Homo sapiens: one gene and its partners. The protein of the gene in region 2 interacts with the protein of the main gene of each other region in a biochemical or structural test. Each region holds a gene or a part of one and is shown on either strand. Other genes may lie near its edges. The genes, in order: SLC15A2, SHANK1 and PLCB2.

Region 1 (2,796 bases), on a different chromosome or scaffold from region 2:
AAAAAGAAAATTTCTAGGCTTCAAGGCAGAAATGGTATTTAAAACTTATGGGAAAAGTAAATCAGGAAAACAACATCAAAAAGGAACTACTTTGATATTTTTGAGGCTAAATGGAAACATTAATAAAGGAAGTTGGACTTATAGAAACATTGTTGTTATTGAATATTTGCTGCAATAAGCAAGACAAGGTGTAATAATAAGAAAAAGCTGGATCAGCAAGGTTGACAAGACAAGGTTGCAAATTATAATTATTGTTTATACAACTGTTCACTGAAGGGCATAGACCAGCGCCATAGAGGCTAAGAAGAATGTACTCTGTAAAAGAATGACTGGCTCTTCAGGATTTCTACAACTTACACCTGTTCCTGTTCTCCAGAACAATGTTTACTAATGCTTACTATCTCTAATCTGGTTTCCATGATCTATCCATACTGAGAAAGGAGGGTTTGGATAAGTAAATAAAATACTATCATAATCAGAGAGATATAACTTCTCCTGTGTTTTAATAAAATGGCATTCTGCTTCCTACCATCTATATTGACAAATTTACTAAAGTCATATCAAACCTAGAGAGCTGACAAGCCAGGCCCTGGCTGGACCAGATCACATCATACATACCAATTCTTGAGGCCCCTGTGAATAGCATAATTACATTGCTTATAAAAAAAAAAACTTGAAATACCATTTCTTTGTTATTCTGCAATTTTGCCTCTAAATCAGCACCTCAAAAATTAGGGCCATCAGTCCTAAATGGCAGTTACCTATAAAGGAATTCCCATAACTTTGCATACCCACAGAGAATGATCTCCATTATACGTGTGTATTTTCATGGTCATTTGGAGACACCAGGCCAGCTCCAGCAACACTGCACAAGTTTTAATGAGTTCACTGATGGACGGGCAGACATAGAGTCTCTGGGGCCTTGTTTAAAGATGTACTGGAAAACCAGTCCTGGAACTTCTGTCATTGGAGAAAGGTGGAGGAGATCAGCTCTGATATGCTGCTATCTCTCTTGTCTAATCCAGTAGAAGAAAAAAAATGCTTCAAGACAGGGCCAGGAATTGGGGTCAGGACAGAATCTAGGGAGTCATCAGAGTTTTGTCTTCTTGGTCTCTAGTTTGATCATGTTCCCCTGGATGTGAGGAATGTGCTTATCTGCTGGACCCCGCATATCCTCTGTCTTTACAGGAACATAGTAGTAGCCCATGATGGAGAAGATCAGGCAGATCACCAGCAGGAGGCAGGAAAACAAAATGAATTCGGCCCACTGCAGGGGGAAATAAATATGAGAAGAATATGGAGAAACCTGAAACTAAAGAGATCTTTACAGGATGAGGAGTGGGGAGCAGACTGACCTGGGATCACCAGTTTAACCAGACTTTTGCTGGACAAAGACTGGGTTCACTGGCCTCTCCTCACATAGGTATATTGTAGTCATTATTGCCACTTACATATGTCTATTTTCCTGGTAAAGTCTGTATATCTAACCCATTTCATGTCACAGCACTGAATGGGGAATGTGGGAAGCAGAGAGATGGGGGAAAGGGAGAAGAGAAAGCTGGAGGAAAAACTTGAGTAGAAATGAATCCTGCTTCCCTCAGATCCATACCTGTACCAGGCCACTGAACTGTGCCACAACAAGCACGATGATATTCCCAACTGCAATTGTCAATAGCCAAGCTGCCTGGAGCACAGATTTCATGCTAGAGGGAGCCTGGGGATGACACAAGTTTGAAAGTAAACAAACCCCCTTCACTGCCCTCATGCCCCATGCATCCAGGAAACTTCTCCCACAAAAGCTTCCAAGTTAGAACTTCTCTTATTAAGTTCAGCTATCACATTGATTCAGAGGGTGTTAATAATGTAAACAGTAAGAATAAGATGAAGCTCCTAACTGAATATATTTAAACTCATTATGTCATATAATCTTCATTACAATCCTAAGAGATAAGTTCTATTCGTATTCTTATACATTTAAAAAATAGTATTACAGACTGGGCGCAGTAGCTCAAGCCTGTAATCCTAGCACTTTGGGAGGCCAAGGTGGGCAGATCATCCAAGGTCAGGAGTTAGAGATCAGCCTGGCCAACATGGTGAAACCCTGTCTCTACTAAAAATACAAAAATTAGCCAGGAATGGTGGTGTGCGCCTATAATCCCAGCTACTCAAGAGGCTGAGGCAGGAGAATCGCTTGAGCCGGGGAGGCAGATGGAGTCTCGCTCTGTCGCTCAGGCTGGAATGCAGTGAGCTGAGATCGCGCCACTGCACTCCAGCCTGGGCGACAGCATTACAGAGATAGTAATTTACTTGCTCAAGGTTACACAATAGGTCATGCAGCCAAAATTTGAACACGGGAAGTCTGACTCTGCAGCTCTTCATTTTAATCTTTAATCTCTTTCCTAGAACCCCAAAATCATAGACTCCCATGCTGTACTGTCATGACCTGGGGAGTTAAGATGTTCAGGTCATATATGTTCAGGGTCATAAATAAGGTACCCAAGGCCAAAAGAGATAACATACCTATTTAAGTCAGTGCTAGAATTAAAATTCATTGTCCTTCAAGCAATGCCTCAATTTCTACCTTCTATTTGCAAAAACTTACCTGAGAATAAGAAAACTCAAGACCTGTGACAGAGAACATGACCTCCCCAGCTGTAACCAGGGCATATTGTGGTAGCTGCCACGCAATGGACATTTTGTTGGCTGGAATGTCTTCAATCTTCCAGGCCTGAAGACCCTGATTGGTGTTCTTAGGGAAAGAGAAAATGGAAATGGACTTGTCAGTAGTCTCAAGTA
Region 2 (3,652 bases):
GGGACACCTCTGGGAGGACAGGGGTCCTTGGGTGGGGGAAGAGGACGGTGCATCAGGGGGGAGGGGGGGTTTCCCAGCACTGGCGTCCTCCAAGGAAGAGGGCATTTGGGGGCTCCCTCTGCCTGCCCGCAGCTGCCCCAACCAGCCCCCTCTCCTGCCTCCTGGCTTCCGGCTCTGCCCCCTCCCACGGTCCTGCGCGCACCGCCTGATTCAGCTTCCTGAGGCTGAGCTGGGACTGTGTCATCCCTCCGCTCACGAGCCTTCCGCGACTCCCAGCTTCCTCCTGGGTCAGGTCCAACTCCTCTGCCCGCCGTTGCCAGCCTCTCCCCCACTTCCTCGGGACACGCCTGGCTGGCCTTCGCCTCCTTCTCACCCTCCTCTAGCCAGGTGGGCTTCCTGACCCCGGAATGTCCCCCGCCCCTTCCTCATCCTCCCTCCAGAGTGACCTCTCTGTCCCCCTCAAGTCCCTGCCACCCCCCCCATCCTCTTCCTGTTCAGCTTCCCTCCACCTCACCCTGTCATTCTGTCTGTCCCCAGGGGCTGGGGCCCATGTTTCTTTGGGGTACCCTCTGCCTGGGGCCCCTGTCCTGGAGCAGACATCCAGCTAACATGTGGTGCACCGGGGGTGGAGTCGGGACAGTAGCTCCCAAGGCCTTGCTTTACCCCAAGGTGACACTAGGGACTTGGATGAGGGCCTACAGAGGAAGGCAGCTGGGCTGGCCTCGGGGGAAGCCGCCGATCTGGAGAGGGGATTTGACGGGGCTGGGGACTGTGGAGCCAGGGCTGCCTCCCCTACCTGGGCCGGCCTCGGGGCTGCCTCTTGGCGTCCTCAGGGTGCCTCCCTCGGGATGGAGAGCGGGCCCTGGCACCCCGGGGGCTGCTGGCACTTCGGAGGGTCCCGCTGCTGAGCTTGGTGGTGGGGGCCGAGGGCTGCGACTGGCCCTGGGACCCTGAGGTAGGGCCAGGGGCCCCAGAGGACGCGGCCCCCGGGGCGGAGAACACCATCCAGTCGGGCAGCGCCATGCTGGTGTCACTGTTGGCCCGCAGCAGCGCCGGGGGCACCGTCAGCCCTGTGCCTGGGGGCCCCCGTCGCCGGGCCGCGTACTTGGGGGACTCCTGGAAGGGCACTGAGAGGGCACAGTGGCGGCGGGGGGCAGATGTTAGGGGAGAAAAGGCAAGCAGGGGGCCATGCGGGGGCAAGAGATGGTGGGAGAGAGGCATGAGGGAGAAAGACAGAGATGAGAAAGGGAGGGGGGCCTGGAATTGCTCCCCCACCACCATCCAGACATTTTTGGTCCTCTAGGGTTTTCTCCATCCTATCCTGGCCCCCAAGTCAGGTCCCCCAACTCCCCCATCCCACCATGAAACCTCAACCGCCCCAGGTTCTCTGTGCAGTCCGAGCTCCCTGTCACTCACCCACATCCTGTTCTCGGTGGTTTCGGATCAGCTCCCCCAGCTCAAAATTCCCAGCAATCACTGCCACCTGGAGGGAGGGGGTAGAGGCAGGTCGGCCAGGGGGGCCCAGGCAGCAGAGAGAGGGCAGGGAACGTGGCGAGGTCCCTGGCCCGACCCAAACCTTCCACTCCGACAATGCCGCCCTCTGTCTTCTTCCAGCTCCCCCTCCACGGCCTGTCTCCTTGCTTTCCTCATTGTCCCCTTCCTTATCCACTGGGTGTCACTGTCACCCTTTCCTTAGCCCTGGAAACTCCAGCACATCCCCTGCAGCCCCAGACCTGGAAGGGGGTCTGTCCGTTGTTGTTCTTCACATCCTTGTCGGCACCTCGATACAGGAGGATCCTGGCACAGGTCTCCTGCGGGTAATGGCCAGTGGCACAGGACAAAGAGAGAGAGAAAAAATTAAGATCACCATGAGTGGATGCAGGTTCTGTGCTAAGAGCCTCAGGAATAAATACTCCACCCTAAACCCGCACCACTGAGGACAGCAGCCACCTGCCAGGTACGGACCAGGAGCACTTTAGTTTAAACGTGGCCGGCCCAAACGGAGATGCACCATGCATGCGAACTACACACTGGATTTCAAGGATATGCCATATGAAAACAAGAAAGAATTTAAATGTCTATAGCCAGGCGTGGTGGCTCAAGCCTGTAATCCTAAGACTGTGGGAGGCCAAGGCAGGAGTTCCAGACCAGCCTGGGTGACATAGTGAGACGCCCCCCGTCTCTACAAAAAAATAAACAGAAATTAGCCAGGCAGGTGGTGGGTGCCTGGAGTCCCGAATACTTGGGAGGCTGAGGTGGGAGGATCGCTTGAGCTCAGGAGTTGGAGGCTGCAGTGAGCTGAGATCAAGCCTGAGTGACAGAGCAGGGACCTGTCTCCCCCCCAGAAAAAAAAAATGTCAGGTGTGGTGACACACACCTGTAATCCCAGCACTTTGGAAGGCTGAGGTGAGTGGATCACTTGAGGCCAGGTATTTGAGCCCAGCCTGGCCAACATGGTGAAACCCCGTCTCTATCAGAAAATACAAAAATTAGCCAGGCGTGGTGGTGGGCGTGTGTAATCCCAGCTACTCAGGAGGCTGAGGTGGGAGAATCACTTGAACCCAGGAGGTGGAGGTTGCAGTGAGCCGAGATCCTGCCACTGCACTCCAGCCTGGGTGACAGAGTGAGACTCTGTCTCAAAAAAAAATAATAATTTCTGTATTGATTCTATGTTGAAATGATAATGTTTTAGATACACTGTTATAAGTAAAATATGTTGTTAAAATAAATGTCACCTAATTATTTTCCCCTTCTCTTTAACATGGCCACTAGGATATTTGAGGGCATTTAGGGTATGTGCTCATGCTATGTTCCACTGGATGTTGGGGCCGGATAATCCTTTGGTGATTCATTGGTTTGTGGAGGGTGTTCTGAGCCCTGTGGGATGTTGAGTAGCATCCCCGGTCTCTACCACTAGATGCCAGTAGCACTCCCCTCCCCAGTCATGACAACCAAAAATGTCTCTAGACATTGCCAAGTGTCCCCTGGGAGACAGAAGCTCCCAGGTTGAGAACCACAGGTCTAGACCTTACGGAGGCTTACCATGTTACGTGCCAGGCGCTTGGCACTTTAGAGGCAGAAGCTCATTGAATTGCCCAACAATTCCAGGACATGGAAATTGTCTCTATTTTACAGAGGAGGAAACTAAGGCTTTCAAAAGAGCCCAAGGTGGGCCAGGGGTGGTGGCTCACTCCTGTAATCCCAGCACTTTGGGAAGCCGAGGAGGGAGGATCGCTTGAGCCCAGGAGTTTGAGACCAGCCTGGGCAACATGGCGAAACCCCGTCTGTACAGAAAATTTTAAAAAATTAGCCTGGCTTGGTGGCACACGCCTGTAGTCCCAACTACTTGTGGGGCTGAGGTGAGAGGATCACTTGAGCCCAAGAGGTCGAGGCTGCAAAGATCCTTGTTCATGCCACTGCACTCCAGTCTGGGTGACAAAGTGAGACCCTGTCTCAAAAAAAAGGGGGGGTTGGGGGGGCTCAAGGTCACACAGCTGGTGATTATCAGCCTTGGATTCGAACCCAGATCTCTCTGACTCCAAAGTCTTCTATCTTAATCACACTTTCTGCCAGGCCCAGAAGGAAGGGGACACACATTGTGGAGGAAAGGGTGGGGGCAGGACTGGGCCAGTGGGGACAGGGATGCCTTCTA
Region 3 (3,652 bases), on a different chromosome or scaffold from region 2:
CAAGATGCAGACTTCTGCTCTGTACAGAAAAGCATTTTTCCCTGTCTTTTTAGTTAAATAATTAATTTTTAATTACAAGTTGTAAGCAGGGTCACCCCATGAAGCAACTTGTGTGAATTACAAAAAGGAGCCCTCTGGGCTGATATGGCCCTGAGCTAGGCTTCAAGCCTGGCCAATGGAGCGAATCTCAGCCCCTGTCCCTGCTTGGCCAGTGCTCTTGTGTGGGTCCCAGCCTATACCCCATGGAGTATTTTCTCCTGGTAAGAATTTGGAACGTTATAAATAAATAAAACCACGACCCCCATTGATCACCTGCCCACATGAATCCCAGGAGGAGCATTTACCCCACAGCCACAGCTCTGCAGAGTTGGTGACTCCTTGATGCAGTCAGTCACAGGGATCCAAATGTGGCGTTGGGGAGAGGTAGGAATGGGCTCCTGCGGCTCCCCTACAGCCAGCAACACTTACCTGTGGTCAGCACACATCCACCCTCCCTCTCTCCTGCTGCCTGAGCTCCTCCCTTGGCTAAGTCCTCCTTATCTATCTGCTTTCCTTGTGTCTCAGTAGAGGCTACTGACCCAACTTTGCTTGGAGCTGAAGCTCCAGAGACAGGGAGGGGTTTGGGGAGATCCAGTTAGACTCTCCTGCTCAGACCCTCTGCTCCAAACTAAGACTGATGTTGGCCTTCCAGTGTGATTCTGAAAGACATTTAATGTTTTTTTTGGGGGGGGAAGGAATGCAAAGGTGCAGAATCCCTGAATACCACAAATGTACTTTTCATTTCTATTTCTATAGATTTGCCTATTCTGGTGGTAAAGTAAATGAAATCATAAATATATGCTTTTCGATGTCAGGCTGTATTCATTTCTCATAATGTTTTCAAGGTTTATCCATGTTGTAGCATGCATGAGTACTTCATTCCTTTTTACCACCTAATAATATTCCATTGTATGGATATACCACATTTTGTTCATCTGTTTATCAGTTGGTAGATGTTTGGGTTTTTTGTACTTTTTGGTTATGAATATTCATGTACATGATTTTGTGTGAACATGTGTAAATTCTCTTGGGTATATACCCAGGGGTGGAATTGTTGGGTCATGTGGTCACTCTATATTTAACAATTTGAGAAACCGCCAAACTGTTTTCTAAAGTGAGAGCATTGTGTAGGGATTTATTTATTTATTTTTGAGACAGAGTCTCACTCTGTTGCCCGGGCTGGAGTGCAGTGGCGTGATCTCAGTTCACTGCAACCTCTGCCTCCCAGGTTCAAGCAATTCTCCTGCCTCAGCCTCCCAAGTAGCTGGGATTACAAGCATGTGCCACCATGCTGGGCTAATTTTTGTATTTTTAGTAGAGATGGGGTTTCACCATGTTGGCCAGGCTGGTCTCGAACTCCTGACCTCAGGTGATCCACCCTCCTCGGCCTCCCAAAGTGCTGTGTGGGGTTTTAGGTTAGTCACATCCCGCTGACACTTGTGATTGTCTGTTTTTTGTTTTAGCCATCCTAGTGGGAGTGGTATCTCATTGTGGTTTTGATTTGCATGTCTCTAACTACAAATTATATTGAGCACCTTTTCTGTGTTTATTAGTCACTTATATATCTTCTTTGGAGAAATACCTGTCCAAATCCATTGTCCATCTTTCAACTGGGTTGTCTTTTTGTTGACTTATCTCTTATCGGATATCTGATTTGCAAATATTTTATCCCATTCTGTGGGTTACCTTTTCACTTTCTTGATGGTGTCCTTTGAAGCACAAAAGTTTTTAATTTTGATGACGTTTAATTTATCTTTCTTTGTCCCGGTGCTTTTGGTGTCTCCAAATATTATTGTTGAATTGTCCTCCTTTCAATTCTATCAGTTTTTGTTTTATATATTATGGGGTTCTGTTGTTAGGTGCATATATGTTTATATTCAAATTGCTTCTTTTTGAATATTTGTCCTCCACTTAAAAAAGATAGCCTACTAGCCTGGCAAGCAGCATCATTTCTTCTGACCTCTTTTCTACCTCATTCTGGTTATTCTTAGTTCCGATCCTGCCCCAGCCAATGGAATAGCCACTGTACAAAATCAGGGTCAGAGCAAACCAGCTAAGCATGCTCTCTGCTCAGCAACCAGGGCCTTGAGAAGTGGATGCTTGGGTGTCCTTGAAGTTCTTCTGTCTGCCTTGAGCCCGCCTTCTGACCAGGTCCCCTTGACCAGGGCTGGGCCGAGTTTGTGGTTCTTAGCTCTGAGAAGGTGAGGGCAGGGGCAATAAGGTTACTATGCCCCTAGAATGACGCCATCAATCCTGAGGACTTCCCAGAACCTGTCTACAAGAGTTTCCTCATGAGCCTCTGTCCTCGGCCAGAAATAGATGAGATCTTCACTTCTTAGTGAGTTTCTTGGGTTGTGCTGGTCATGGGAAAAGGGTGGTGGCTAACAATCCCCTCCTCCCACCTGCCATGCCGGGAGTCAGGAGGCTTCACTGGACAAGGGGGTTGTCTAAGCCTCCAGGCCCAAGGGATATGGACCTGTGCTCTTCTCTCTGGCTTGAAGCCATGCTAAGGCCAAACCCTACATGACGAAGGAGCACCTGACCAAATTCATCAACCAGAAACAGCGGGACTCCCGGCTTAACTCCCTGCTGTTCCCGCCAGCACGGCCTGACCAGGTGCAGGGCCTCATCGACAAGTATGAGCCCAGTGGCATCAATGCACAGAGGGGTGAGGACTAAGGGAACCCCTTGTCCCCTGTGGTCCTGTCCTGCCTTGGCAGCGGGGTTGTAGCCTGACAGCTATCTCCTGTCCCCCAGGCCAGCTGTCACCTGAAGGCATGGTCTGGTTTCTCTGTGGGCCAGAGAACAGCGTGCTGGCCCAGGACAAGCTGCTGCTCCACCACGACATGACGCAGCCACTCAATCATTACTTCATCAACTCGTCCCACAACACCTACCTGACAGGTGGGCCCTGATAACATTGGTGCCAACCTCTGCTTTCACAGGGGTTCCCTGCATCCTCCACAGGGGTTGCCCACATGCTGCTGGCCCTGAGAATAACACAGACCATGATGGAGTGGCGGTAGGGGGAGAGCTGGGCTGCCTTTGGGTGATGCCCTCACCTCTTCCCCATCCTCTGGCTCAGCCGGCCAGTTCTCAGGCCTCTCCTCGGCTGAGATGTACCGCCAGGTGCTGCTCTCTGGCTGCCGTTGCGTGGAGCTAGACTGCTGGAAGGGGAAACCCCCTGACGAGGAGCCCATTATCACCCATGGCTTCACCATGACCACAGACATCTTCTTCAAAGTGAGACCCTGGGCACAGAGGCTGGTGGCCGTGGCAGTAGGGAAGGGCTCTGGGCCAGAAGCTTTGAGGGGTTGGAGGGCTGAAGCTAGAGAAGATGAATGGCTGGAAGGCCTCAGACCATTGGGGACCAGCAGGGATTGGGGGCCAATGGCGGCCATGCAGTTATATGTGTGTATTGAAACTAGGCAGGGGGGAAAAGTGCTATCACGAGACAGGCAGTCGGAACGCTGACCTTCTGTTCATGGAGTCTCCTTCTCCTCCAGGAAGCAATTGAGGCTATTGCAGAAAGCGCCTTTAAGACCTCCCCCTATCCCATCATCCTGTCGTTTGAGAACCATGTGGACTCGTGCGTATCCAGGCCCATTCAGCC

The links.
Region 1: the proteins of SHANK1 (region 2) and SLC15A2 interact in a test that uses a peptide from one of them, tested with the Homo sapiens proteins (one large-scale study listed by IntAct).
Region 3: the proteins of SHANK1 (region 2) and PLCB2 interact in a test that uses a peptide from one of them, tested with the Homo sapiens proteins (one large-scale study listed by IntAct).

Annotation. Positions count from the first base shown.
Region 1 is NC_000003.12:121,939,302-121,942,097, reverse strand, and holds part of SLC15A2 (solute carrier family 15 member 2), read right to left. Parts: intron 2,750-2,796; coding exon 2,603-2,749; intron 1,715-2,602; coding exon 1,610-1,714; intron 1,268-1,609; coding exon 1,091-1,267; 3' UTR 1-1,090. UniProt on the Homo sapiens protein: Proton-coupled amino-acid transporter that transports oligopeptides of 2 to 4 amino acids with a preference for dipeptides. Transports neutral and anionic dipeptides with a proton to peptide stoichiometry of 2:1 or 3:1.
Region 2 is NC_000019.10:50,702,704-50,706,355, forward strand, and holds part of SHANK1 (SH3 and multiple ankyrin repeat domains protein 1), read right to left. Parts: intron 1,812-3,652; coding exon 1,734-1,811; intron 1,484-1,733; coding exon 1,417-1,483; intron 1,128-1,416; coding exon 797-1,127; intron 1-796. UniProt on the Homo sapiens protein: Seems to be an adapter protein in the postsynaptic density (PSD) of excitatory synapses that interconnects receptors of the postsynaptic membrane including NMDA-type and metabotropic glutamate receptors via complexes with GKAP/PSD-95 and Homer, respectively, and the actin-based cytoskeleton.
Region 3 is NC_000015.10:40,297,853-40,301,504, reverse strand, and holds part of PLCB2 (1-phosphatidylinositol 4,5-bisphosphate phosphodiesterase beta-2), read left to right. Parts: exon of another isoform or gene 1-838; intron 839-2,030; coding exon of another isoform or gene 2,031-2,096; exon of another isoform or gene 2,097-2,259; intron 2,260-2,276; coding exon 2,277-2,377; intron 2,378-2,540; coding exon 2,541-2,707; intron 2,708-2,796; coding exon 2,797-2,943; intron 2,944-3,124; coding exon 3,125-3,282; intron 3,283-3,545; coding exon 3,546-3,628; intron 3,629-3,652. UniProt on the Homo sapiens protein: The production of the second messenger molecules diacylglycerol (DAG) and inositol 1,4,5-trisphosphate (IP3) is mediated by activated phosphatidylinositol-specific phospholipase C enzymes.